5 separate regions of the Homo sapiens genome follow, and regions 2, 3, 4 and 5 are each reported to be linked to region 1. Evidence: microRNA targets listed by miRTarBase, many of them from high-throughput screens and not tested one by one. Region 1 holds a microRNA gene; each other region holds the end of a gene's coding sequence.

What was found. The annotated mature microRNA hsa-miR-665 reads ACCAGGAGGCUGAGGCCCCU and lies in region 1 at 1,998-2,017, opposite strand. An mRNA with a match to its seed (bases 2 to 7 or 8) in the 3' UTR can be bound and repressed. Matches are read on the target gene's strand: a 7mer-m8 pairs with bases 2 to 8, a 7mer-A1 pairs with bases 2 to 7 and ends in A, and an 8mer does both.
Region 2: the mRNA of GPALPP1 is a reported target of hsa-miR-665. Seed matches in the 3' UTR shown: 7mer-A1 at 2,404-2,410.
Region 3: miRTarBase lists RBM28 as a target of hsa-miR-665. Seed matches in the 3' UTR shown: 7mer-m8 at 4,760-4,766, 8mer at 3,758-3,765 and 7mer-m8 at 2,920-2,926.
Region 4: miRTarBase lists TRMT112 as a target of hsa-miR-665. The part of its 3' UTR that is shown has no 7-base or 8-base seed match.
Region 5: miRTarBase lists TOMM40 as a target of hsa-miR-665. Seed matches in the 3' UTR shown: 7mer-m8 at 4,726-4,732.

Annotation. Positions count from the first base shown.
Region 1 is chr14:100,871,991-100,877,091 of GRCh38, reverse strand. It overlaps MIR665 (microRNA 665), which reads right to left and starts at 2,059; the gene lies at 1,988-2,059. It overlaps MIR337 (microRNA 337), which reads right to left and starts at 2,599; the gene lies at 2,507-2,599. RefSeq lists an enhancer at 3,251-3,420.
Region 2 is chr13:45,027,580-45,032,668 of GRCh38, forward strand. It overlaps GPALPP1 (GPALPP motifs containing 1), which reads left to right. Exons shown (of 8, transcript NM_018559.5): 8 at 206-2,726. The coding sequence ends at 424. Among named protein-coding and RNA genes, the nearest start is that of GPALPP1, 41 kb to the left of the region's middle.
Region 3 is chr7:128,305,981-128,311,081 of GRCh38, forward strand. It overlaps RBM28 (RNA binding motif protein 28), which reads right to left. Exons shown (of 19, transcript NM_018077.3): 19 at 1-4,951. The coding sequence ends at 4,817. It also overlaps the pseudogene LOC100418961. Among named protein-coding and RNA genes, the nearest start is that of RBM28, 35 kb to the right of the region's middle.
Region 4 is chr11:64,312,475-64,317,561 of GRCh38, forward strand. TRMT112 (tRNA methyltransferase activator subunit 11-2) reads right to left here and starts at 5,085. Exons shown (of 4, transcript NM_016404.3): 1 at 4,975-5,085; 2 at 4,790-4,891; 3 at 4,584-4,673; 4 at 3,986-4,494. The coding sequence starts at 5,052. The coding sequence ends at 4,387. ESRRA (estrogen related receptor alpha) reads left to right here. Exons shown (of 7, transcript NM_004451.5): 3 at 1,477-1,593; 4 at 1,765-1,893; 5 at 2,267-2,437; 6 at 2,527-2,796; 7 at 3,233-4,269. The coding sequence ends at 3,492. RefSeq lists an enhancer at 3,589-4,104.
Region 5 is chr19:44,902,817-44,907,904 of GRCh38, reverse strand. TOMM40 (translocase of outer mitochondrial membrane 40) reads right to left here. Exons shown (of 9, transcript NM_001128917.2): 9 at 4,216-4,875. The coding sequence ends at 4,736. APOE (apolipoprotein E) reads right to left here and starts at 2,109. Exons shown (of 4, transcript NM_000041.4): 1 at 2,064-2,109; 2 at 1,238-1,303; 3 at 1-145. The coding sequence starts at 1,280. RefSeq lists enhancers at 385-1,187, 1,990-2,792.

The sequences.
Region 1 (5,101 bases):
CCGTCTCAAGAAAAAAAAAAAAAAAAGGTGGAGGGATGAACAGGACTACCTTGCAGGGTAAGGCCAAACAGAGAATTTACCAGCAGTAATCACCCGTGCCCCACAGTGGGGGAATCCAGACACGCGCTAAGGTAAGCGTATTTATCCACAGTTCACACACACACACACATATTGACTGGGGGCTCCCGGTGCTAGAGTGGCCACGGCCCCCCACACCAGCAGACAGTGAGGACCTCGCCTCCTTGGCTCCCCTGCCCCATCCAGCCACAGCAGGTTTAGTTTACAGAGAAGAGCGGCAGCCCCCAGGCCCAGAGGAGAACTACTGATAAAGTGATACAACGGACTCTGGGGACTCCAGGAAAAGGGTGGGAGGGGGTGAGGGATAAAAGTACAAACTGGGTTCAGTGTGTACTGCTCAGGTGATGGGTGCACGAGAATCTCACAAATCACCACCAAGGAACTTACTCATGTAACCAAACACCACCTGTTCCCCAAAACCTATGGAAATAAAAAATTCAAAAGAAAAATAATACAAACCTTTTTTTCTCCTGGGGAAAGAAAAAGGAAGGTTAATGTTAAATGTCATGCTGGGTTATGACATCATGGCCACCACAAAAAAAGGTGAAAACTCCTCTGAACAGCAGACAGCACAGCCTGGCGCGGACACTGGCACACAGGCCCACGGGACCTGGCGGGCCACAACTAAATGCACCCATCTTCCACCTTCTCTGTCCACCCCCAGGTCACTGATGTCAGGGGATGGAGGGAGCCCTGAGCTCCACTCCTGCTGAGTCTTGTCCATCAACCTCCCTTCCCGACCCAGCCCACCCCCATGAGATGCCCAACGTGCCAGCCTCCAGCCCTGGTGCACACAGGGCCAGTTTCTGGAACACTCAACAGCACACCACCCAGGCAGCTGAGGGCTACTCACCGCTCGGGTCCGGACTCGCTCATCCCTCCTGCAGGCGGCCCCAGGTCCAGTTAGGGCCTTGGACTCAGGCCCCCGTGCCAGGAGCTTGACCAGCTCTTAACAATCTGCCCAGGGCAGAGACGTGAGGTCCCCTCCTGCCCACCTGGTGACCCCGGTTGCTCCCAAAGTGAAAAAGAGAAAGACAACAAATAGAAGCCATCACCCCCACTCCCAAGCTCCACCCACCCGCTCAGAGCCCTGCTGCGGGGACGACAAGACCCTTGTCATGCCCCAAGCCCATGAGCACTGACCTCAGACCCAAACAGTAAGCCTCGTCCAGACCCCTGTCCACCTGTCTGAGATCAACAAAGACAAGCATACCCATCCTGACACCACAGAAGCTGAGGGGTAGACCAGGAAGGGAGCGGGTGCATGGGGGAAGCGGGGGTGAGGAAGGGGAGACGGGAGGTGGGAAGGAAGGGCAGGGGAGAGGGTGCTCCCTCCTGCAGGAAGGGAGGGGGTGCATTGGGGAGGAGGGGTGAGAAAGGGAAGATGGGAGGTGAGTGGGAAGGGCAGAGGTGAGGGTGCTCCCTCCTACAGGAAGAAGGGGTGCATGGGGAAGGAGGGGTGAGGAAGGGGAGATGGGATGTAAGTGGGAAGGGCAGAGGTGAGGATGCTCCCTCCTGCACCCTCTTGTCCTCTCTAATGGCCTCAGCTACTGCAAGGCCTCTCTCCCCACACTGGCTGCCCTGCTGCCCCGATGCTCATGCCTGGGCTGGCTGTCGTGGCTTGTTAATGGGGTTAATGATGCCAATATCACAGGGCTTGGTGCGGGTCACCTCTGCCATGCACAGGACCTGAGTTAGTCAGAGAGGCAGAAGACAGAGGTCCAAGAACCAGGGGCCACGGCCGTGCCCCCTGCTCATGTTGCCATTGGGCACCCTCAGGTACCCAGCCTGAGCAGGGTACGCACAGGGGAAGAAGGGAGCCCAGCTGACAGCTTCTGGGGACCCAGAGTTGGGAATCCTTGGGGAGAGGGGAAATGTCTCCAGAACAGGTTTAAGGAGAGAGTAAGAAGCCGCCTGTGAGGGGCCTCAGCCTCCTGGTCATGAAAGAGTCCTGGGTAGAGGCAGAGACCCCTCGAGGAGACCCTCCTCTTGGGGCACAGAAAGGGCCAGCCCTGGTCCGCCAAAGCCCCACCCCCTCCACCCTGGGCACAAAGGGGCACCATCTCTCCAACGTCTGTCCATCCATCCTGTGGGCCGGGTCCCTTTGGAGGGCTCTGTGTGGGAGCACAGCCCCAGCCCCTCAGTGGGAGAAGCCCCAGGGCTACCCAACTCCCCCTCCGGCCTATCTGCCCTTGGCTGTGGAGTCAGCCCAGGGGGTGTCCCACCAGGGGCATAGTTCCCTGCCAAGGAGGGGCCTCAGAGATGGCCCAGCCCCAGGCCCTCCCCTCCAGGAAGTCAGAGAGCTGCAGAAGAGAGAGAGAAGAGCCCAAGGAGCATGCCGGGAAGAGGCTGGCAGGACAGCAGCGGACTTGAGGACGCGTCCCCGTGCAGCCAAGGGTGCAGAGGAGGGTCCGGGGGCTGCGCGTGGTTGAAGGGGATGAAGAAAGGCATCATATAGGAGCTGGATAACTGTGCATCAACTCCTGTATGAAGCCGTTCCCACCCCCCAACTACTGACTACGGGCCGCAACCCTCCTCCCGGAAGCGCAGTGCAAGCGCTCGGATGGCAGAGGGGACGCCTGCTGCTAGTGGTTAGAGCAGTGACAGCAAGGGACAGCCAGCCTAGGCAGTGCCACCCACTGCTGGGCACCTGCAGCGCTGGGGTACCTGTCCACCCTGCCCAGCCTTGCCCTACCTGCCTCCTATGGCCAGGGCCTGGGCCTCCCTTAGCCCCACAGAGCCCCCAGGTGACTGTGCAGCCAGGCCAAGGGACGGAGGATGGGGAGGTGAAGGGGGAGACAGGCCTGATTCTGGCCCAGGTCTGTGAGTGGACATCGGGGACTCGACCCCACCCACCCACTGCTTTGACTCCCTGGTACTTCTCCAGCCTTGCCTTCTACATCTGTGAAATGGGTTGCAACAGGCACCTCTGGGGACCCAGTGAGGACTCATGAAGTCCAGGGGCACTTCAAGAATTTCCCAGAGACAGAAAGTAGATTTTTGGTTGCTGAGGGCTGGGGGGTGTGCATGGAGGGTGAAGGTGACAGCTGAAGGCTCTGGAGTTCTTTTGGGGGTGATGAAAATGATCTTAAATTGATTATGGTGATAGTTGCAGATATCTGTGAATAACTAAAACACACTTCGCTGTGAGCTTTAATGGGCGGATTGTGTGTATGTGGATTACATCTCAATAAAGTTGTACCCCAAAACACCTTCCTTTGTTCTTTGACATCTTTCTCAACCACCATACTGCCTGCCTCGTCCTACACTCTCCAGCCATCCACACCACCAACACACATGCACAGGGACACGCAGCCAGGCACGTGGTAGGTGGTGCAAAAATATCTGTGAGTAAATGACCTGATAATATAACATTCTCTGAAAGAGCCCATGGAGGGAAACCTTTAGGGAAAGGGGTTAAAGATTAAGAAGTAGGGGTGGCAGGAGGGTATGGAGGTGGGAAAGAGGCTCAGAGTGACACATGAATGGAAAAGGGGCTCAGATTGACAGACACATGGAGGGAGGAGGGGCTCCCTGTAACACATGGGTGGAGGAGGGGGCTGGTGTGACACACGGGTGGGGGAAGAGCTCCATGGGACACATGGGTGGAGGAGGGGGTTGGTGTGACCCATGGGTGGAGGAGGGGGCTGGTGTGACACATGGGTGGGGGGGGTTAGTGTGACACATGGGTGGAGGAGGGGGCTGGTGTGACACACGGGTGGGGGAAGAGCTCCATGTGACGCATGGGTGGAGAGGGGGTTGGTGTGACACATCAGTGGAGAGAGGGTTGGTGTGACACATGGGTGTGGAGAGGGGCTCCATGTCACATAAGTAAGGGAGGGGCTCAGGGCAATGCATGAGTGGGGGGAAGGTCTCTGGGTGATGCATGGGAAGGGGAGGACTTCAAGTGACATGTGAGAGAAGCTCAGGTGACACATTAGTAGGGAAAAGGCTCCTCATGACACATGAGTGAAGGAGAGGTGGAATGTGAGACAGAAAAGGGGCTCAGTGTGACGTGTGTGGGAAGAGAGTCTCTGTGTGACATATGGGGGGAAGGGACTTGGAGTAACACAAGAAAGGCGACTTGGTGTGACACGTGGGTGGGAAGAGTCTCTCTGTGACATATGGGGGCAGGGACTTGGAGTAACACAAGAAAGAGGACTTGATGTGACACGTGGGTGGGGGAAGATCTCACGGGACACAAGGTTGGGAAGAGATGCCCAGTGAGACACAAGGGTGCAGGGAGGGCTCCGCGTGTCAGAAGGAGTCCATGCAATACATCAGTGGAGGAGGAGCTCAGTACGACACGGGGTGGGAGAGCGGCTCAGTGTTATACATGCATGAGGTGAGGGGTCCATTCGACAAACGGGCAGGGGGTGCTGTGTGCCTTGTGAGTAGAGGAGGAGCTTCATGTGACATATGAGCAGGAAAGAACTCGGTGTAACACATGGACAGGGACAGGGGCTCCAGGTGACACATGAGTCAGGGAAGGGCTCTGAGTAACACATGTTGAAGAGAAACTCAATGTGATACATGGATGGGGAGAGGCATTCTGTATGACTTATGAGTGTGGGGAGAGACTACATGTGTGACACATGATTAGAGGAGGAACTTAGAGTGCAGCTGAATGGGTGGGGCTCCTAGTGACACACACGCAGAGGACAGGGTCAGAGTGACACCTAAGTGGTGGAAGGAGCTCAGTGTGCTACAAGAGTGGGAGAGGGGCGTCCTGTGACACATTAGTGGGGCTTGCTGTGACACCCTTAAGAAAGATAGAACATTCAGTGTGATACAAGTAGATGAGAAATTATTTGTGTCACATGGGTGGAGGCTCCATGTGACATATGAGTGGAGGAGGTGTCGAACATGACACAAGGATGGAGGAGGAGGGGCTCCATGGGACACCTGGGAGGGAGGAGGAGCTGAGGATGACACATGGAAGGAGAAATGGCTCCATGGAACAGGAGGTGGAAGGAGGTGCTGAGTATGACACATAGGAAGAGGAGGGGCTCCATGGGACACC
Region 2 (5,089 bases), not on the chromosome of region 1:
TTAGTATTTAAATAACCATAATGCTTTTCATTACATATTTTCTTTATAAATGCTGTCTTGGATTTGGAAAAAAAAAAACTACTGGGGTTTGTAAATAGCCCTCCTTAATGTGCACCATTACTATCTATTCCGTTTCATGGTCATATTCTGTCAATAATCTATATACAAACTATAGTTTTTATTTCTGCTCTCCTGCTCTCTCCAGGAATCAAAAAGATCAGAATCTCTTATGGACATACATCATAAAAAGTTAAAGAGTAAGGCTGCTGAAGACAAAAATAAGCCTCAAGAGAGAATACCATTTGACCGTGATAAAGATCTCAAGGTTAATCGGTTTGATGAAGCTCAGAAAAAAGCCCTAATAAAAAAATCTAGAGAACTAAACACCAGATTTTCACACGGCAAAGGCAATATGTTTTTATAAGTAAGTATATTTCAGTGAGGTATATTTTAATACTGATCAATGTGAACTTTTCTAAATACTCTATTGTCTTTAATAATTGTGCTGAAATCTATTTCCTTTTATAATAGATTAAAAATTTTATATTTTTATAAGTAAACAGTGATTTTTGAAAAGTCAGCCTTGTGGGATGAAAAATATGTCTTACTGGAAAAATCCCTCATAATAACCTAATAGGGCATTGCTATTAAAAATGCTAAAATAAAAATTCAGCTTATGAGAAATGGCAAAGGAAGGTGTGGTTTGATACTTGAGTAAATATGCATGCTTTATTAAAGATGAAGAAAGGCTTGCTGGTTGTTTGTATGTTAAACAAAATCCCAACTAGGAAATGTTTGTTGCTTAGAAAGGTCCCCTATAAGTTAAGGTTCAAAACTATTCCAATATTCATCCATAGCCCAATCTGACAAGGGTTCAGAATGGTGATTAAGAAATTACATAAAGCTGGGTGCAGTGGCTCACGCCTGTAATCCCAACACTTTGGGAGGCCAATGTGAGAGGATCGCTTGAGCCCAGTAGTTTGAGACCAGCCTGCTTAAGATGGTGAGACCCCGTATCTACAAAAAACTAACCAGGTGCAGTGGAGCACACCTATAGTCCCAGCTACTCAGCAGGCTGAGGTGGGAGGATCCCTTGAGCCCAGGAATTCAAGGCAGCAGTGAGCTGTGATTGTGCCATTGCACTCCAGTCTGGGCAACAAAGTGAGACCTCGTCTCTTTAGAAAAAAAAAAAGAGGCCAGTGGCTCACACCTGTAATCCCAGCACTTTGGGAGGGTGAGGCGGGTGGATCACCTGAGGTCAGGAGTTCGAGACCAGCCTGAACAACATGGTGAAACCCCATCTCTATTAAAAATATATATATATAAAAATTAGCCAGGTGTGGTGGCACGTGCCTGTAATCTCAGCTACTTGGGAGCCTGAGGCAGGAGAATTGCTTGAACCCGGGAGGTGGAGGTTACAGTGAGCCGAGATCGTGCCACTGCACTCTAGCCTAGGTGACAAGATCGAGAGACTCTGTCTCAAAAAAGAAAGAAAAAGAGAAGAAAAGAAATTACATAAAAGCTGAGGTTGCTTCTTAATATCTTTATGATTTTTAATTGTATTAAACCTATATCAATATTCAAATGTGATTTTTGAGGAAAATATGTTAAATTTAGAAATATTTTCCAACTTACTGAGTTTTCTTATTCTTACCTCAGGGGGATTTCCCTGTGCAATGAAGAAAAGTTGAAGAATACTCTTTGTCCATCTTTATTTCTTTGTTTTTGGCTTCTTAAGATTAGAGATTACTTTAATCTTAAAAAACATACAAATTTACCTTGTTCTGTATGTCCTTTTAAGGTCATGTGGAAACATAAAACGAATGTTTTTTATGTAGAACAGAATATTCTATGTGCCTTTAGCTTCTGTGGAAGTATGGGGAATTATGGGCTTTTCTTCAAATAATTATTTTAAGAGGCTTCCATTCCCCCTGATTTTTGTGGTGTCTCACAAGTACCCTCTAAGGTCTGGTCAGGACTGACCACCAAATCTCTACCACAGCCTGGACCTCCTTGTGAAATATACCTAACCTGCCCTAGAGTCAGTGTGTCAAGTCCTTACTGTAAATCCATGACTTTGAAATTTGTTGTTTTTTCCCTTTAAACTGCAGCCAGTGAATACAAATTTACTTGAAAATAGAGGGTATGGGGTTTTGCCTGTTTTGTAATCAGTTTGCTTGTTTTAGCACTCAGGGCTTTTTATTTGTTATTTAATTTTTTAATTGTTTTTAAGTCAGAAAGATCTCTGGGTTATCTCATGTGCTAAGGAAAAACTATTTTGCTTTTTCCAACTTTAATAGTTAGTATTTCTAGGGGAGGCAATCAAGATAAGATATGCCATTAACTGTTAGCATTGTGAAATCTGTAAGACTCAATCTCTGATCTCAACCAAAGCTTTCTGAGTCCTGGAACTTTGCTTTGGGACAACTTTACTTTACCCATTTATATGCTGTACTTAACAGTTTGTAGCTAATTTATGGGGTCATATCTTTTTTTTAGCTAATTTACGGGGGTCATATCAGTCATGAATAGCCTTTTTTAAAAATTTAATAATCCCTGAATACAAAAATGGAAATGGAAAATTTATAATCATAACCCCCCTAATTGGGAGTATTATAAGTTTGTAATGCTTTAAGCACTGCCTCTTAAGATGATAAATTTATAAGATGAGAAATTCTATTTAAACTATTAAACTATTGTTAAATAAATGCCAATTCTATAAGTTATATTTTCTTGCAGATTAATCCCAATTGTTCCACTAGTATTCTAGTTTTGATGAGACACAAATTTTTGTTGTTGTTTATTTTTGTTTTTTTGAGAGATGGAGTCTTGCTCTGTCACCCAGGCTGGAGTAGAGTGGCGTGATCTCAGCTTACTGCAACCTCCGCCTCCTGGGTTCAAGCGATTCTCCTGCCTCAGTGTCCCAAGTAGCTGGGACTACAGGCGTGCACCACCATGCTCAGCTAATTTTTGTATTTTTTAGTAGAGATGGGGTTTCACTATATATTGTTCCAGGCTGGTCTCGAACTCCAGACCTCAGGTGATCTACCTGCCTCGGCCTCCCAAAATGCTGGGATTACAGGCATCAGCCACCATGCCTGGCCAAGACACAAATTTTTAATGGAAAAATATTCTGATTCCCAGTTCATGTAAGCTTTATGAAAATTGAGTATATTGTTTATATGATGGTACAAATTATTCTTCCTCTAATAATAGCAGTACAGTATATTTTTTCCATAGCATCAGTGTAAACCATAGCAAACTAAAGGAGCATTGCTATTAAAAAGATGAATTAGCTGGGCGCAGTGGCTCATACCTATAATCCCAGCACTTTGGGAGGCCGAGGTGGGTGGATCACCTGAGGTCAGGAGTTCAAGACCAGCCTGACCAACATGGTGAAATCCTGTCTCTATTAAAAATATAAAAATTAGTCGGGCCTGGTGGCGGGTGCCTGTAATCCCAGCTACTCAGGAGGCTGAAGCAGGATAATTGCTTGAACCTAGGAGGCGGAGGTTGCAGTGAGCCAAGATCACACCATTGCATTCCAGCCTGGGCAACAAGAGTGAAACTCCATCTCTAAATAAATAAGTAAATAAATAGATGAATTTTTCTCCTAAGCAAATTGAAAAAGCTTCTTGTGTACTCAAAATTGAACAGAGCTACCTTTTGACTAAAAATGTCATTTTTAATGAGCAGTATTTTCTGAACACAAAATTTTGTACAAGAGTGTCTCCATTGCATTAATTTAATTTTGTTATAATTTTTTCCCAATGAAAGGAAAAAAGTATTTTGTAGCTCCTCTTCCTTATGTAAATTCTTAACATATATTTTTGAGAAATTTGCATTTTTTAAAGTAAAATTGTTATCTTTGGATACTTACTTTTCTTTGTTTTCCTCATTTAAAGAGAATAGGGATATTTCTGTATTATATATTTACTGTTTCATCCCTCACCTTTGGAGTGACCATGACCTTGGCATGAAGGAGAGAAACCTCTGCTTTCCGCCTATTGCTTCCAGGAGTTACTACCTTACTGGCCTTGGAGATAATGCTCTTTTGTGCCAACCTGAGGATAATTTTAACAAAATGTAAGGCCAGTTTCAGAGGTTGTTTTGCCCCACAGAGAGACTAATCCCAATACAAGAATATTGACAACAAAAGGACAAAGTAGTTATTGCACAGGACGGAAAGGTGTCTTTATTTCATCCCCTCCCCACTTCCAAAGATGCAAAAGGCCTAATTGAATCAAGTCTCCTTTCCATCTGGCAGGAGACATTTTAATAAGGACTTTTTAATTTCCTACATTTCTTGGCCAAGTGTCATAGGAATGTGGCCTCTTTTGAAATTTAAAAATGAAGAAGAAAAAAAGAGCAACACTAAGTTAATATAATGGAGCAGATACTTTTAATGTTCTTACCATTGAATATGCCATTTAAGTTTGTTATACTTGAAATTATATGATTTTTGTCCAGCTCTCTAAATTGTCATCTCCAATAGATTTAGATGCTTCAAATAGTAACCACATTACTGGTAAGTAAACGGTGGGGTTATTGGGTTTAGCAAGTGGGGAAGTAAGGGGTGAACAAAACACGAGAGATGGTGGCTACACCCCTACTAAGACTGCCTTACCAGATAAATGAAATCCTTTTTGTATTAGGCACAACATGGTAAATTAAGTCTTGCTCTAAAAAAAAAGAAAAAGAAAAAAGAGAAAAGCCCTGATCTAAGAGTTTTTAGATGCTAGCAACCTTGTTTAGATGTAGATCTTGTTTAGATGTAGCAACCACTTGACATTTAATTTATCATCTTAACCTTGAATGATTCTTTGTTTTGTTTTTTGTTATTGAGATGGAGTCTCACTCTTGCTGCCCAGGCTGGAGTGCAGTGGCGTGATCTCGGCTCACTGCAACCTCCACCTCCCGAGTTCAAGCGATTCTTCTGCCTCAGCCTCCCAAGTAGCTGGGACTACAGGCGCCCACCACCGTGCCCAGCTAATTTTTGTATTTTTAGTAGAGACGGGGTTTCACCATGTTAGTCAGGCTGGTCTCGAACTCCTGACCTCAGGTGATCCGCCCACCTCAGCCTCCCAAA
Region 3 (5,101 bases), not on the chromosome of region 1:
CAATCACCAATCACTAAGCATTGCCATGTACCAGGCCCAGGGGCTGGGACTATGGGAGCTAGTTCTTATAGTGGCTCATGATCTACTTGGGAAGGCAAGACCTAAAGAAATGACAAGTAAGCCACAATGGCATATGCTTTGTCGAATGAGAGGGTACCAATCAGCGAGTGTGCCGGGGACTTAGAGGAAGGGGTCACAATGCCCTGGGATGGCTGAGGTCCCCACGGAGATGTTGGGCCTTGAGCCAGAACTTGAGTGCTGGATAACACTTGAGTGGAAAGGAGGGGCACAGAGACTGTCCAGATTGGAATGGACAAGGCATAGCAGAAAGTACGGTGGTACACTCAAGGCACTGTGAACAGCAGTTTATTATTATTTTTTCCTTCATGCTGTCTTTTGGGGTCCTTAGGAAATGACTCTGTTGTCCTTCACAAGCCCAGCTAGGCCCTGGAACAAATGGCCTTTAGAGAGTTCAACAGTATGAAACTCCTACTACGAGTAAATCAATGTTAGGTGTTGTGGGGTATGTGGAAAAGTGAAAAAATAATAGTCCCTGCCTTAAAGGACAAGAAATGATTTTCCCTTTATCAAATGTCCAGGGAAGGAAACTGTGGGATGACACTGTGGCAGTGAAGTCTCACATCTGATAAAAGGCAGTGGGCTCTGGGCAGCATGGACAAGTTTAAGAAACACTGGATTTGCCATCTATCAAGATGCTCCATTTAGGGGTGGTCCAAAAGGTCTTTCAGTAACTCAGCAGTTCTCTTCTCAGAATTAGTTCCCAGTCTGTGCCTTCCAATCTTCCCAGTATATTCCTTTACCAGCACAAAAACTCATGTACAGCCAATGACCAGTTCAGAATAGATGCCAAAGTAATCAGACTATACCAGTAGCTCACCCCATGTCTGGTCACCAAGTAAGCCATCACAGACTCTGCAAATAATCCTGGAAAGGAAGAGGTACCAGGACAAGAAGGAAAGAACTAAAACAAGGATGTGAATAACTTCTAAACTGGTCAGCCTTGGACAAAAGGAAATCTGGAAATCTCGACTTGGCCTGAGAGAAACCTCATCCTGGCCCTTAAAGTGCCAATTAAGGCTGAGTTGAAAAGGAGCTGGGCATCATCAAACTGCAAACAAACTTAGCTTAGGCACCCACAGTGTGATGATGTGTTTATTTCCATGAAGGAGCAGTCTATGGAGAAGTGCAGGAACTTTCAAAGTTGCATGGGCAGAGCTGCTTCTTATATGACAGAATTGGCAGCTGCCTGTCACTTCACAGTGGGTCACATGAATATGAAGCAGAGAACTGGCTGTGTGCGTCAGCAGGGGAGCTTAAGACTGCAGATTCTGGGGAATCAGCACTCACTGTGACACATGTGATCCTCTGTCTCCTCAGACAACTGAAGGATGATGAGAAGGGGATCTCTGGAGCCTTGACCTTCTGGGCCCCGAATTTCTAGCTAGAAAACCTCTTTTCAAGACAAAAACATACCAAAGTACATTTTGAAGTATTTCGAAGAATGAATCACATGCCCTAACTTTATAATAGAGGAAGGCACAGATCTCATTTTTGTGACAGGTGAAACATAATCCTTGCCACAGGTTAACTCCAGAAGAAGGAACTGTACAGCTGAACAGAGCAGATTCTTAGAAACTACAAACTAACCAACAAACAAACAAATAAGGCAAAGAACAGCTGCACATCATCTTAAGATTCCTTATTTAAAGGTTGTATCTCTAAGCCAGGCTATTATATAATCAAGCAGGAAAATACTACTAAAACTTGATAGTTTTGACTGGTGGCCTTGTCTTGGATGTTAAGAAAAAATTTGCTGTTGTTTTTCAAAATAATAGAGATGGGGGTCTCACTATGTTGGCCAGGTCGGTCTCAAACTCCTGACCTCAAGCAATCCTCCCACCTCCCGAAGTGCTGCAATCATAGGTATGAGACTCTGTGCCCCACCTGTTGTTTTTTAACCAAGCAATCTGCAACTCAACTTTCATGTTAATTCAGAAAACTCCATTTCCTGACACATCAGGCCCTGAAGTGAAGGAGAAGTGAGCACAACTCTCACTGCACTAAAATTCCCAAGGCAAGGAGTCAATGGAGCTGACCAAATAGCCCATGGTAAGGTGTTCCAAAGGAAGACACCATATATAGAATTTGACTATTAAGAAAGGGAAGATTCAACCTCATATAAAGAACTCTTTAAAGAACTGTACAACAGCTCTCCAAGCAAGTGAATGAGGTTTTAACATACTGTTAAGTTGTTAAAAGAAATATTTGGATCTAAGAGAATCTGACAATGTTATCTGAATGAACACCAATTTTGATCTATCCTAAGTGTTAAGATATATTTTTGAATGTTAAAGATATTCGTGTACTAGGGAAAAAAGAGTGGTGAGCAGACGGAGAGATGGCCAAGGAAAAACAGATCACCTGACTGGCAGGTTATAGCTATTGTGACACTCTTAATAAAGTCCCTTACTTCCTCCACACTGTACAGACCAGGCTGAGAAAGACATGTTGCCAGGCTACCGTAAGAACATTTGACAGCCCAAGTCATGTCTCGAGGTGAACTTGGAGATAAATCACCTGTCCTTTCGATCTCTCCAAAAGGTCTAAATATTTCCATGGCCTCTCCTTCATCCATTTCTAAACCAAAGGCATTTCAGAGCATTCATGGGTTCCCCAAGATATTGCGATGAAATAACCATGTCTCAACCAGGCTCATGCCTGTAATCCCAGCACTTCAGGAGGCTGAGGTGGGCAGATCACAAGGTCAGGAGTTTGAGATCAGCCTGGCCAACATGGTGAAAACCCGTCTCTACTAAAAATACAAAAATTAGCCGGGCGTGGTGGCAGCACCTGTAATCCCCGCTACTCGGGAGGCTGAGGCAGGAGAATCGCTTGAACCCAGGAGGCGGAGGTTGCAGTGAGCCAAGATCATGCCATTGCACTCCAGCCTGGGCAACAGAGCAAGACTGTCTCAAAAAAAAAAAAAAAAAAGAAATAACCATATCTCTAGCTCAGCAATGGTTCTGTCAAAGCATTATTTGTAACACTCAACTAGACTAAGCAATCAAGAATTTTGGGCCACGTTCTCAACTTTTTCTCTTGCCTACTGAATACTGTTTCTTCCTTTCCTACCTTATTTTTTTCATTCAACAAATATTTATTCAATACTTACTACGTGCCTGGGTCAGTACTAGGTGCTGTGTCTACAGGAGTGAACAAGAGGGATAAAGTCCCTCTCACAAAGCATACATTCTAACTGGAGAGACAAACAATTTCAGATAGAGATTAGTGCTAGAAAGAGACAAATGATTTCAGATAGAGATTAGTGCTAGAAAGAAACAGGGAAGCAGGCCAGGCGTGGTGGCTCACGCCTGTAATACCAGGACTTTGGGAGGTCGAGGTGGGCGGATCACCTGAGGTCAGGAGTTCAAGACCAGCCTAGTCAACATGGTGAAACCCCATCTCTACTAAAAATACAAAATTTAGCCAAGAATGGTGGCGTGCACCTGTAGTCCCAGCTACTTGGGAGGGTGAGGCGGGAAAGTCGCTTGAACCCGGGAGGTGGAGGTTGCAATGAGCTGAGACAGCGCCATTGCACTCCAGCCTGGGCGACAGAGTGAGACTCCATCTCAAAAAAAAAAAAAAAAGAAGAAGAAACAGGGAAGCAGATTTCAGTAAGGGGGCAAGATAGAGGGGAGGGGAAGAAAAGCCCTACTTTAGATAGTCTGGGAAGAGCTCCAGGAGGAGGCGACAACTAGTGGAGATCTGAGTGACAAGTAAAAGATGCAAGGGAAAAACTCTCCAGGCAAAGGGAACGGATACAAAGGCTCTGAGGTGGTCAAGAGTCAAGAGATGGAAGGAAGGCCTGTGTAGCCAAAAGTGAATGAAGAAGAGAGTGGATAAAGACAAGCAGAGGTGATAGGGCTGAAGAGCCCAGGGAATCAAATGTTATAGGAAGACAAGATTTCAATCAAAGTGAGATGTCAAACCCCTGGAGTTTTTCAGTAGGTGTGAAGCCATCTTAAGGGGCAGACTTAATGAGGATCAAGTGTCCTCATTAAGGAGGACTTAGAGAGCTAGTGGATACGATGAAAAGGGAGGTGCTCTATGAGAGAAATGCAGGTCATCGCTAACCAGGCTAGTGTCTTTAGGCCACTGCAGGCCAATTCAACTGGAAATCCCCTCATCTGACAAACACATAAGTGCTGCTCTCTGTCAGGCCCCACCTCCCCCCATTCTTTTCCAAGTGTCTCCGCCTGCAGCGATTAGGTTAGAAAGCATTTCTCTCTGCTCTCGCTTAGACAGTTCCTGCAGTGTGTAAGACTACAGAGCTGAATTAGGAATGTCAAAGAATGTTCATACATAATAAAGGAGTCACACATATTAGAAATGACGTTGTTACTAAAAAGCCACACAATATCTCATTTAGAGAATATGCTTAACAAAATATACATCTTAAAAATTCAGCACTCCAGAATGCTTTTTCAGGTGTTTCCATTTGAGAAATAAAGAATAAAAATTGGTAATAATTATAGACACAACTTCATACAATAATCTGGATAATATGCAAGAAGCATCATGTTGACTTTCAGATATTTCTCTTTGTGGCTAACGAACCACACATCAAAGGATGGACCAAAGTTCAGATGTACACAGTCCAGGGCACCTCCGAGCACAGTGGCAGTGCCCTTGGGGATTTTCTTTCCCTCAGTGAGAGACACGGGGGATGGGGAGGAGCCCAGGAGTGTCACCAGAAAGTACACAACCCAGCTTCTTACCCAGCCTGCTGCCATCATCAACTATCAAACCATTTGCTCCTCTTTGCAAGAGGTGCTCCTTTAGAAGGTCCCAATAATTTCTGCTTATATTGTTCGACCAGCTGGTTGAAGCGGGTTTCCGTCTTATTTCCCTTAGCTTTTTTCCTAGATACCTACAAATGAAAGGATTAGAAACATAATATAATCAATTTCAAAGACTATATATCACCTTACCCTCAGGCCACCCAAGAGAGAAAGTAAGTGGGACAGAGATCATATCTACCAGAAAGGGGTAGGTTTCTAGAGAGAGACTCTTAGAGAGA
Region 4 (5,087 bases), not on the chromosome of region 1:
GGGGTAGGAGAAAATGCACCGCGAGGAGAAATGTGCTGCGGGCCTGCTGTCTAGCTGTGTCATTTGGTCGTTGCGGGGCCCTGTGAGGCCGGGAGGGCTGCCAGCACCCACCATGTGCCAGGCCTCGTTGCTAGTGCTGGGGCCAGTTCCTGCCCCGGTGGAGCTGCCACTGAAGGGGGAGGCGTAATAAACAAGATAGGTGAGTGCATATGCAGCGTGGTCTGTTGTGCTGAGGGCTGAAGAGAAACCAGAAGCAGGGCTCAGAGGCCAGGAGGACTCTGCAAAGGGATTTGGCATTATCACAGGGTGGCCAGGGAAGATCTTCAAGGTGACAGTGAGCAGAGGGAGGTGAGGGAGCCTGTGTGGACTTCAGGACTAGAGCTCCAGGCAGGGCCTGTTTGAGGAACATGGAGGAGGCGAGAGCAAGGAGTAGAGGTCAAAAGGAGGCAAGAAGCAGGGGCGTAGGCCTAGGAGGACATAGGTTCGCTTTGGCTTGGACTCAGAGAAGGGAAATCCCCAGAGGGTTTTGAGAAGAGGAGGTACAGGATGTAATGGAGGCTTAATAGGACCCTCTTGGCTGCTGAGTCGAGAACAGACTGGAGCAAGCAGGGACAGCCAAGCGAGGGGCGAGGTGACAGTGACTATCAGGTCAAGGGTGGAAGTAGTTGCCAGGGGCAGGAGGCGGATTCTGGACCTTGGAGGAGGTAAAGCCCACCAGAATGTGTCGGTGGCTTGGATGTGGGGTGTGAGAGGAACCAGAGATTCTGCCTAGGTTTCTTCTTGGGCAAGTGAACACGTGGAGTCCACGTAGGCTGTGTTCGGTCCGAGATGCCTTCTAGACATGCAGGATGTCAAGGAGGCAGCTGGAGAGATGGGTCTGGAGCTCACAGCAAGTCCAGGCTAGAGGTAGAAACGTGAGAGCCCCACGGCTGGGGAAGATTGCCATGGGATTGGAGATGAGCTCCAAGGACAGCCCTGGCAGTCTGGATGGAAGAGCTTGGGAAGATGCTCAGAAACCACAAAGTGGCTGGTGCGGTGGGAGGAAAACCAGAGTGTATGCTGTCCTAGAAGCAAAAGAAGAAAGTGTTTCAGTGTTTCTAGGAGCAGGAAGTGATCAACAGCCTTAGATCCTCCTTTTAGGCCAAGTAACATGAGGACTAAGAATTGACCACTGGATTTAGCAATGCAGAGGTCCTTGTGGCCCTTGATGTCGGCAGATGAGGGCAGTGTGGTCCAGAGATGAGGCTTGGGGCTGAGATGCAGCCCCGCTGCCTGGTCCAGCTCCTCCCTCATCCAGGCAGGGCTCCCCCGCCCAGCAGCCACTCCCCTCCCTGCCTGCTCATGGCCCCCTGCTCTCCCTTTCCTCCCCATACCCCCAGACCTGTGCTTGCCCGGGGAGAGTCAGGGCTCTCCTGTCAGCTGGGTCCCCTCCCAGCCCCGGGAGGCCGCCACTGGAGCCCTGCCTCTTCCTGGCAGGGAGCATCGAGTACAGCTGTCCGGCCTCCAACGAGTGTGAGATCACCAAGCGGAGACGCAAGGCCTGCCAGGCCTGCCGCTTCACCAAGTGCCTGCGGGTGGGCATGCTCAAGGAGGGTGAGCGCTGGGCAGGGGCTGGGCGAGGGCTGGGGGAGTCGGGGACCCGGGCCAGGTGGGGGTGAGGCCTGGGAGTTCTGGTGAGTGGACTCGGGGAGGACAGCTCTGGAGAGCAAGCCCCACCCTGCCCACAGCACCACAGTCACAGTCCTATCTGTCCCACAATTCAAGGAGTGCGCCTGGACCGCGTCCGGGGTGGGCGGCAGAAGTACAAGCGGCGGCCGGAGGTGGACCCACTGCCCTTCCCGGGCCCCTTCCCTGCTGGGCCCCTGGCAGTCGCTGGAGGCCCCCGGAAGACAGGTGAGAGCACTGTGGGTACCTGGGGCTACGAAACCGGAGGCCTATGTGTGGCATCATAGTTACCTTGGGCACTGGGACCTGTATTTCCCCTTCGTCTCTTCACTCACTCATTTCCCCAAGACATGTGAAACTGCCTTTTCCTGCATCAGGAAAAGTAGTAGAACTGGGAACAGGGACGATTTTCCAACACTCACAGCCTGTCCACAAACACACGGGCTTTCCCTGGGAGACAGTTAGCGCTCTTCCCTGGAGGGAAGTCACTGGACAGCTGCTACTGAGGAAGGCCACAGGGGGAGCCACTGTGGGAAGATGCTTGACCCCTGAGGCCTGACAGATTCGAGTGCTCCTGACTCTTGTCCTCTAATTGTCACAGCAGCCCCAGTGAATGCACTGGTGTCTCATCTGCTGGTGGTTGAGCCTGAGAAGCTCTATGCCATGCCTGACCCCGCAGGCCCTGATGGGCACCTCCCAGCCGTGGCTACCCTCTGTGACCTCTTTGACCGAGAGATTGTGGTCACCATCAGCTGGGCCAAGAGCATCCCAGGTAAAGGGCCCAGGTGACCCGGGGCTGCCCTGAACGGGCCCGGCTCTGGTGCGCTTGCTCAGCCAGGCCCGCTCCCCGCTGCCCCCTAGGCTTCTCATCGCTGTCGCTGTCTGACCAGATGTCAGTACTGCAGAGCGTGTGGATGGAGGTGCTGGTGCTGGGTGTGGCCCAGCGCTCACTGCCACTGCAGGATGAGCTGGCCTTCGCTGAGGACTTAGTCCTGGATGAAGAGGGGGCACGGGCAGCTGGCCTGGGGGAACTGGGGGCTGCCCTGCTGCAACTAGTGCGGCGGCTGCAGGCCCTGCGGCTGGAGCGAGAGGAGTATGTTCTACTAAAGGCCTTGGCCCTTGCCAATTCAGGTGAGTCTGGGGCAGGCACTGACAGGTGAGGTGTCTCCGTAAGGTCTTCAGGTTAACTCAGTGACGGTAGCACAGCCCCATTTTGCAGATAACGAAAACTGAGGCTTAGGGAAGAACAATGACTTGCTAGAAGTCAAAAAGCAAGCCAAGTGCAGGCTCCAAACTGCACACAGGATTTTGAGCCCTAGTGCCACACTAATGCAGAAAGGTCATTTAGTGGGAGGGAAGGTGGGGAGGGTACAAGGTGGCCACAGTTGAGGGAGAGAGGGTGGGGTCCTGGCCCACGAGCCGCAGCAATGAGTGGTGCCTCTCAGTCAGCCAATCAACAAATCCTCGTTTGGCTCTTCCTTAGGCCCCATCCAGCAGTGCTCAAGATACGGGGAGTGCCCTTGCCAGAGATAGCCCAGGCCAACACCACATTCCTCTCTTCTTGCAGACTCTGTGCACATCGAAGATGCCGAGGCTGTGGAGCAGCTGCGAGAAGCTCTGCACGAGGCCCTGCTGGAGTATGAAGCCGGCCGGGCTGGCCCCGGAGGGGGTGCTGAGCGGCGGCGGGCGGGCAGGCTGCTGCTCACGCTACCGCTCCTCCGCCAGACAGCGGGCAAAGTGCTGGCCCATTTCTATGGGGTGAAGCTGGAGGGCAAGGTGCCCATGCACAAGCTGTTCTTGGAGATGCTCGAGGCCATGATGGACTGAGGCAAGGGGTGGGACTGGTGGGGGTTCTGGCAGGACCTGCCTAGCATGGGGTCAGCCCCAAGGGCTGGGGCGGAGCTGGGGTCTGGGCAGTGCCACAGCCTGCTGGCAGGGCCAGGGCAATGCCATCAGCCCCTGGGAACAGGCCCCACGCCCTCTCCTCCCCCTCCTAGGGGGTGTCAGAAGCTGGGAACGTGTGTCCAGGCTCTGGGCACAGTGCTGCCCCTTGCAAGCCATAACGTGCCCCCAGAGTGTAGGGGGCCTTGCGGAAGCCATAGGGGGCTGCACGGGATGCGTGGGAGGCAGAAACCTATCTCAGGGAGGGAAGGGGATGGAGGCCAGAGTCTCCCAGTGGGTGATGCTTTTGCTGCTGCTTAATCCTACCCCCTCTTCAAAGCAGAGTGGGACTTGGAGAGCAAAGGCCCATGCCCCCTTCGCTCCTCCTCTCATCATTTGCATTGGGCATTAGTGTCCCCCCTTGAAGCAATAACTCCAAGCAGACTCCAGCCCCTGGACCCCTGGGGTGGCCAGGGCTTCCCCATCAGCTCCCAACGAGCCTCCTCAGGGGGTAGGAGAGCACTGCCTCTATGCCCTGCAGAGCAATAACACTATATTTATTTTTGGGTTTGGCCAGGGAGGCGCAGGGACATGGGGCAAGCCAGGGCCCAGAGCCCTTGGCTGTACAGAGACTCTATTTTAATGTATATTTGCTGCAAAGAGAAACCGCTTTTGGTTTTAAACCTTTAATGAGAAAAAAATATATAATACCGAGCTCAAAAACACTGTGTTTGGTGTCATTGGGTCAAGGGTTGGGGATACACACGGCAGAATTCGGAAACAGGGTATAGATCAACAAAAATACACAGTCATAACAAGAAAAACTGGCGCCTGGCACAATCAACTCTCAGTTTCCTCTTCACTCAGCAGCATGTTGGGGATCCCGCGGCTGATGGGGAACATACGTCCAGATTCCGGGCACTGCAGGGTGCCCTCTATCACTTCCACCTGCGGGCAGGGAGGGACAGAGCTGAGCACTGGCAGCCTCAGTGCGGGAGGCAGGTGGCCCGGGAAGCAAGTGATGGGCCGCTTCTCACCTCCAGCAGCAGGTGGTGCATGGTCCTCAGAAACTCCTCATTCTCCTCATATCCCTCAACCGGCCCTTTCGGCACCTGGATCAGACGCAACTGTGGGCAAGAGGCCAAAATTATCTCCGGGCATCCCGAACTCCCGCCTCAGCCCGGCTGAGGTGTGCCCGCCCCGCATTCCCCGGGATATGCTGGGGCGGGGTAAGGATCCTCACGTTATCGGCCGCCTCCAGGAACGCCGACCACTCCACTTTAGGTATCATACGCGCCACGAAGTTGGGGTTGAATTCCACAGGGCAGATACGGACCTCGGTGGCCTGCAGGGCGGAGGAGTTTAGGCAAGCACTGGACCCCGGCCCACCATCCCGCCCGAAAAGGGAAGACTGCCGCCGGCGGGTACCTGGAGGCGCAGGGGGAAGCCACGGGACCCCACCCCCCGCACATGCGAGCTCAGCAGATTGTGGGTAAGCAGTTTCATGTCGCCGCACAAACTCTCGCCAGGCCGGAACCGGA
Region 5 (5,088 bases), not on the chromosome of region 1:
TCAGACAGTGTCTGCACCCAGCGCAGGTAATCCCAAAAGCGACCCAGTGCCAGTTCCCAGCGCTGGCCGCTCTGCCACTCGGTCTGCTGGCGCAGCTCGGGCTCCGGCTCTGTCTCCACCGCTTGCTCCACCTTGGCCTGGCATCCTGTGTGGAACAAGTTCAAGGTGGGTCAGGGTCCTTCTGACCCCGTCCAGGCATCTAGTACCTAGGGGCACACAGAAGGTGCTCCACAAATGCTTCTTTGGAGCCATGGTGGGCAGGGTGAGGGGGGAGTCGGTTTAATCACTTGGAAAGCATTATGTATTTATAAACAGGGTCTTGCTCTGTCACCCAGGCTGGAGTGCAGCGGCCTGAACATGGTTCACTGCAACCTTGACCTTCTGGGCTCAAGCGATCCTCCTGCCTCAGCCTCCTGAGTAGCTGAGAGCACAGGTGTGTGGCACCATGCCTGGCTAATTTTTGTATTTTTAGTAGAGACAGGGTCTCACTATGTTGCCCAGGCTGGTGTTGAACTCCTGGGCTCAAGTGATCCTCCCACCTTGGCCTCCCAAAGTGCTGGGATTACAGGGGTGAGCCACCGCGCCCAGCGGAAAAGCATGTATTGAGTGTCCTTGTGTGCCCCAGGCAGGGCTGTGTGGGGGTGATGGAGAATAAAGATCACAGCTGCCCCGTGTCTGGTATTCACTATCTGCCTGCAATGCATTAGAAACCTCTAACTCCCAGCCAGGTGCGGTGGCTCACGCCTGTAATCCCAGCACTTTGGGAGATCGAAACGGGCAGATCACCTGAGGTCAGGAGTTCCAGACCAGCCTGGCCAACATGGTGAAACCCCGTCTCTACTGAAAATACAAAAAAGTTAGTCGGGTGTGGTGGCATGTGCCTGTAGTCCCAGCTACTTGGGAGGCTGAGGCAGGAGAATGGCGTGGACCTGGGAGGCGGAGCTTGCAGTGAGCCGAGATCCCGCCACTGCACTCCAGCCTGGGCGACAGAGCGAGACTTCATCTCAAAAAAACAAAACAACAACAACAAACAACAACAACAAAACAACTTCTAACTCCTATCTCAAGGATGGGGGAAACCGAGGCCCAGAGAGCGTCAAATCGCTGTTCAGAGCCAGGAAGCAGCACAGAAGCCTCAGAAGAGGGGGCCCAGGGTCTGCCTGAATGGGGCCAGGAGGTTGAGGTGAGGATGAGAGGGGGAGGAGCGGGGGGAACCGAGCAAGCCCCGCCCCCATACCTGCCAGGAATGTGACCAGCAACGCAGCCCACAGAACCTTCATCTTCCTGCCTGTGATTGGCCAGTCTGGGGAAGGAGAAACTGTCAATCAACCGCCAGTGAGGACTCCTCCCACCCCCAGCCCGGCCCCAACCCGGCCTCACCCCAGGTTAGCCTTCCAAGCCTTGTTGCATTATCTGCAACAGCCTAATCCCAGCACATTTACCAAGCCGCCCCCAACCCATTCCCTATTTAACTCCCTCCTGGTCTTCTCTTATCTCCCCATCCCCAGGTCGGCCTCCATAGAAAATTCCATCTTCCTCTCCCGGGGTTCAAATTCCATCCCCCCACCCCCTCCCCACCGCCGGTTCCATCTCAGTCCCAGTCTCGCATTCCTCATTCTCCCTTCACATTCTAAGCTCCAACCTCACAGTTAAGCGCCGTGTTCCATTTATGAGCTAATTCAGTCCTCATTTTAAAGTTCTCCAATCGACGGCTAGCTACCGTGTCGCTGCCCCTGGCTCCCCAGTTATGGAGATCTGAGGACACTGGGGACACCCAGTAGGTGCTCGATAAATGATAGTGACAACTCGTGGAGTCCTGCTATGGCTTACATCCCAGTCCAGCTGCTCTCCCCACCCCACCTTCTAGCGGGTCGGGTCGTCTCTGCTGCCCAGCCCTTCCCAGGTCCAGTCCCCTGCTGCTTGCCTCACCCCCGCTCCTCCTCTCCCCAAGCCCGACCCCGAGTAGCTCTCCTGAGACTACCTGGAGGCCAGGGGTTCCCAGGGTCCCAGCTCTTTCTAGAGGCCCCTGAGCTCATCCCCGTGCCCCCGACTGCGCTTCTCACCGGCTCCTGGGGAAGGACGTCCTTCACCTCCGCTGGGGCTGAGTAGGACTCAAGGATCCCAGACTTGTCCAATTATAGGGCTCCCCCTGTCCCGCCCCCTCCCCCAGGGATAGGGCGGGCTGGGCCAGCCCCCAGTCACGAGGTGGGCTGTTCTCCCCCTGCCCCAGGCACAGCAGGGCAGAGGGAGGAAGGAGGTGGGGCATAGAGGTCTTTTGACCACCCCCCACAGTCCCCAGGAAGGGAGGACACCTCGCCCAGTAATACAGACACCCTCCTCCATTCTGGGGGCCAAGCGTGGAAGGGGAATGTGGAGGCTGCCGCCCAGAGTCCTCCTTTCCTGACCCTGTCCTTTCCTGTGCCTGGATGAATGTAATCTGGAGAGGGGGCTGGGGATCTGGACTCCTGGATCCCAGAAAGAAAGTAGGGCTAGGGGGCTGGACAGAAGTGGGATGGGAGGGGCTGGGGGCGGTAGCTCACGCCTGTAATCCCAGCACTTTGGGAGGCCACAGTGGGCGAATCACTTAAGGTCAGGAGTTTGAGACCAGCCTGGCCAACATGGTGAAACCCCATCTCTACTAAAAATACAAAAGTTAGCCAGGCGTGGTGGCGGGCGCCTGTAATCCTAGCTACTTGGGAGGCTGAGGCAGGAGAATCGCTTGAACCCGGGAGGCGGAGGTTACAGTGAGCCGAGATCTCGCCACTGCACTCCAGCCTCAGCAAGAGGGAGACTGTCTCAAAAAAAGAAAAAAAAGAAAGTGGGGCTAGGCGGCTGGACAGAAGTGGGATGGGAGGGGTGGGAACAGTATGATGCACCTGCTAAAAGTCGAGGCTTTGCAAATGGGACCTGGGTTTTAATCACAGCTTCCTCTTTGGTTGTGACCTTGAGCACAGGGGAGCCCCCTCCCCACATGTGAAATGAGATTCCAGCACCTCCCCCTGGCTGCCACAGGTATTGTGGTTTCCAGGGGCTTGAAGCCGTGCTTCTGGGTTAAGGTTAGGATTCTGGAGTCAAATTGCCAGGGCGTGAATCCTGGCTCTGCCAGTTGCCAGCTGTGTGACCTTGGGCAAATGACTTGTCCTCTCTGAGCATCAAGTTCCTTTGCTCATCAGACTGGGAAAGCAGCGGCACGGGTATGTTTGGTGACAAGCTAACGTGTATTGAGCATGGAGGACAGCCCTGGCACACAGCGGTCCTATGTTAGGGCTAGCAATGGACAGGCCACAGTGAACGCTCAGACGCTGTCACTTTCCTAAGCCCTGTTATAAATCCCAGATGTTTCAGAGGAGAAACCCGTGGTTCAGCAGCAAGACGAATGGCAAAACCACACAGTGAGAACTGGGAGAGACTGGGACTCATTCCTGGCTCCTGGAGCGGGTGGGATCAGAAGATTCTGCGGGTCAGGGGAGGCTGAACTCCTGGTTCGAGAAGGAACCCCCAGTGCCGGGCCGGGCCTGTTTGCTTTGGCTGGCAAGGGGTGGCTGAGGTGGGGTTGGTAACCTGGGGTTGGTTCTACTCAGCAGCCTCCTTCCCCAGACCCTGGGGGCAGACAGGGTTTCAGTTCCTGGAGGCTCGGGAGTCGTGGTGGGCATCAGCTGACCCCAGCCCTAGGTTGGCAAAATCCAGACAGCACCAAGTCCTCAGACACAGGTGACCCAACTCCCATGGCTGGCCTAGGCCCCTCCTCCCAGGCCTGCGAGTCCTTGAGCCCCTTCTCCCTGACACAGCAGTTCCTAGTACCCTAGTTGTTCTGAAGCTGTTCCAGTAGCTTGAACCCTCTCCCAGCTCCCTGCCCCCATCTCTGCACTCAGAGACAGTGTCATCTCTGCTGCTGCAGTCTGCAGGGACAAAGTCCTCTATAGCCACTCCGGCCAGGTCAAGCTGGGGGCAAGTGACCTTGAGACCCTACCCTCAGGCAAGGGAAGGCCCGTAGTGTCCCCCAGCAGGGCAGATGTTCCGGATGGGAAGATAGCGACCCCAGGCCACGCTGCGCCCCTCTGAGCCGGACTTAAGGCAGCATCAAGGATCCGCTGCTTTCCGTGCTCCGGCCCTCTGGCGCCCCCTGCAGGCGGCTGGGGGAAGGTCAGGGCGGCCAGACTCCGGATGAAATGCTCAAAACAGGCCAGACACACTTGAGAAAACGGAGGCCTCCCATCGTTTTTTTTCCCACGTATATTTTTTGTTGTTTTTTGTTTTTTTTCTGTAAAATGTCCCGGTTCTTCCATAACTTATAAACATGATTTATACCGAGGAGATGGGAAAGTGGACGGGGCAGGGTGGACTGACCGGGGATGGGGAAGCTCCTCTCGCTGCCCCCTCGGGGCGGGCCCAGGCCCTTTGGAGGATGGGGACGCCAGGACACTCCTCCCTGAGGTTGTCTGGCCGCCTCTGCCCCTGGTGCTCAGAATCCTGCGTGCCCCTCAATTCCGGAATCCCTCCCGGGACCCCAGGCCCACTGGGCATGCTGCCCCTGCTACTCAGAATCCCGAAGCGCCATTCAGTTCCAGAATCCCCTCCTCAGCTGCTGGGGTGGCGGGGTCCCTCCTTTCCAATGTCCCCCCCGACCCCCAAGGGGGGAGGGAAGGGAGGGGGGCTCAGGTCTCCCCTCTGTGGCAGGGGGAGGTGGAGGTGGAGGTGGAATCGGAAGGGCGTGGAAGGCGGGGGCCAGGAGGGCTCAGCCGATGGTGAGGCCAAAGCCACACTGAAACTTGTTCTTGCGGTGATTCAGGAAGGCCCCAAGGGCCAGTGTCAGGGGCAGGGGTGGGAGCTTCTTCTCCAGCGTGGCACCCACGATCCAGTTGCTATCCACAGAGCCTGCAGGGAAGAGCTGAGGTGAGAGGCGTGCCAGCTTCCCACCATATCCATGCAGAGTTCCTGGCCACCTTGGATACCAGCCACATGCCGACAGCTTCCAGACCTTTAACCACACTGCTCCTGCCACCCTGAAACCCCATCACACCAACAACTTCACGCTGGAGCAAATGGCTCACTCCTCCTCTGCTCTCCGCTCAGTGACCCCTGCCCTCT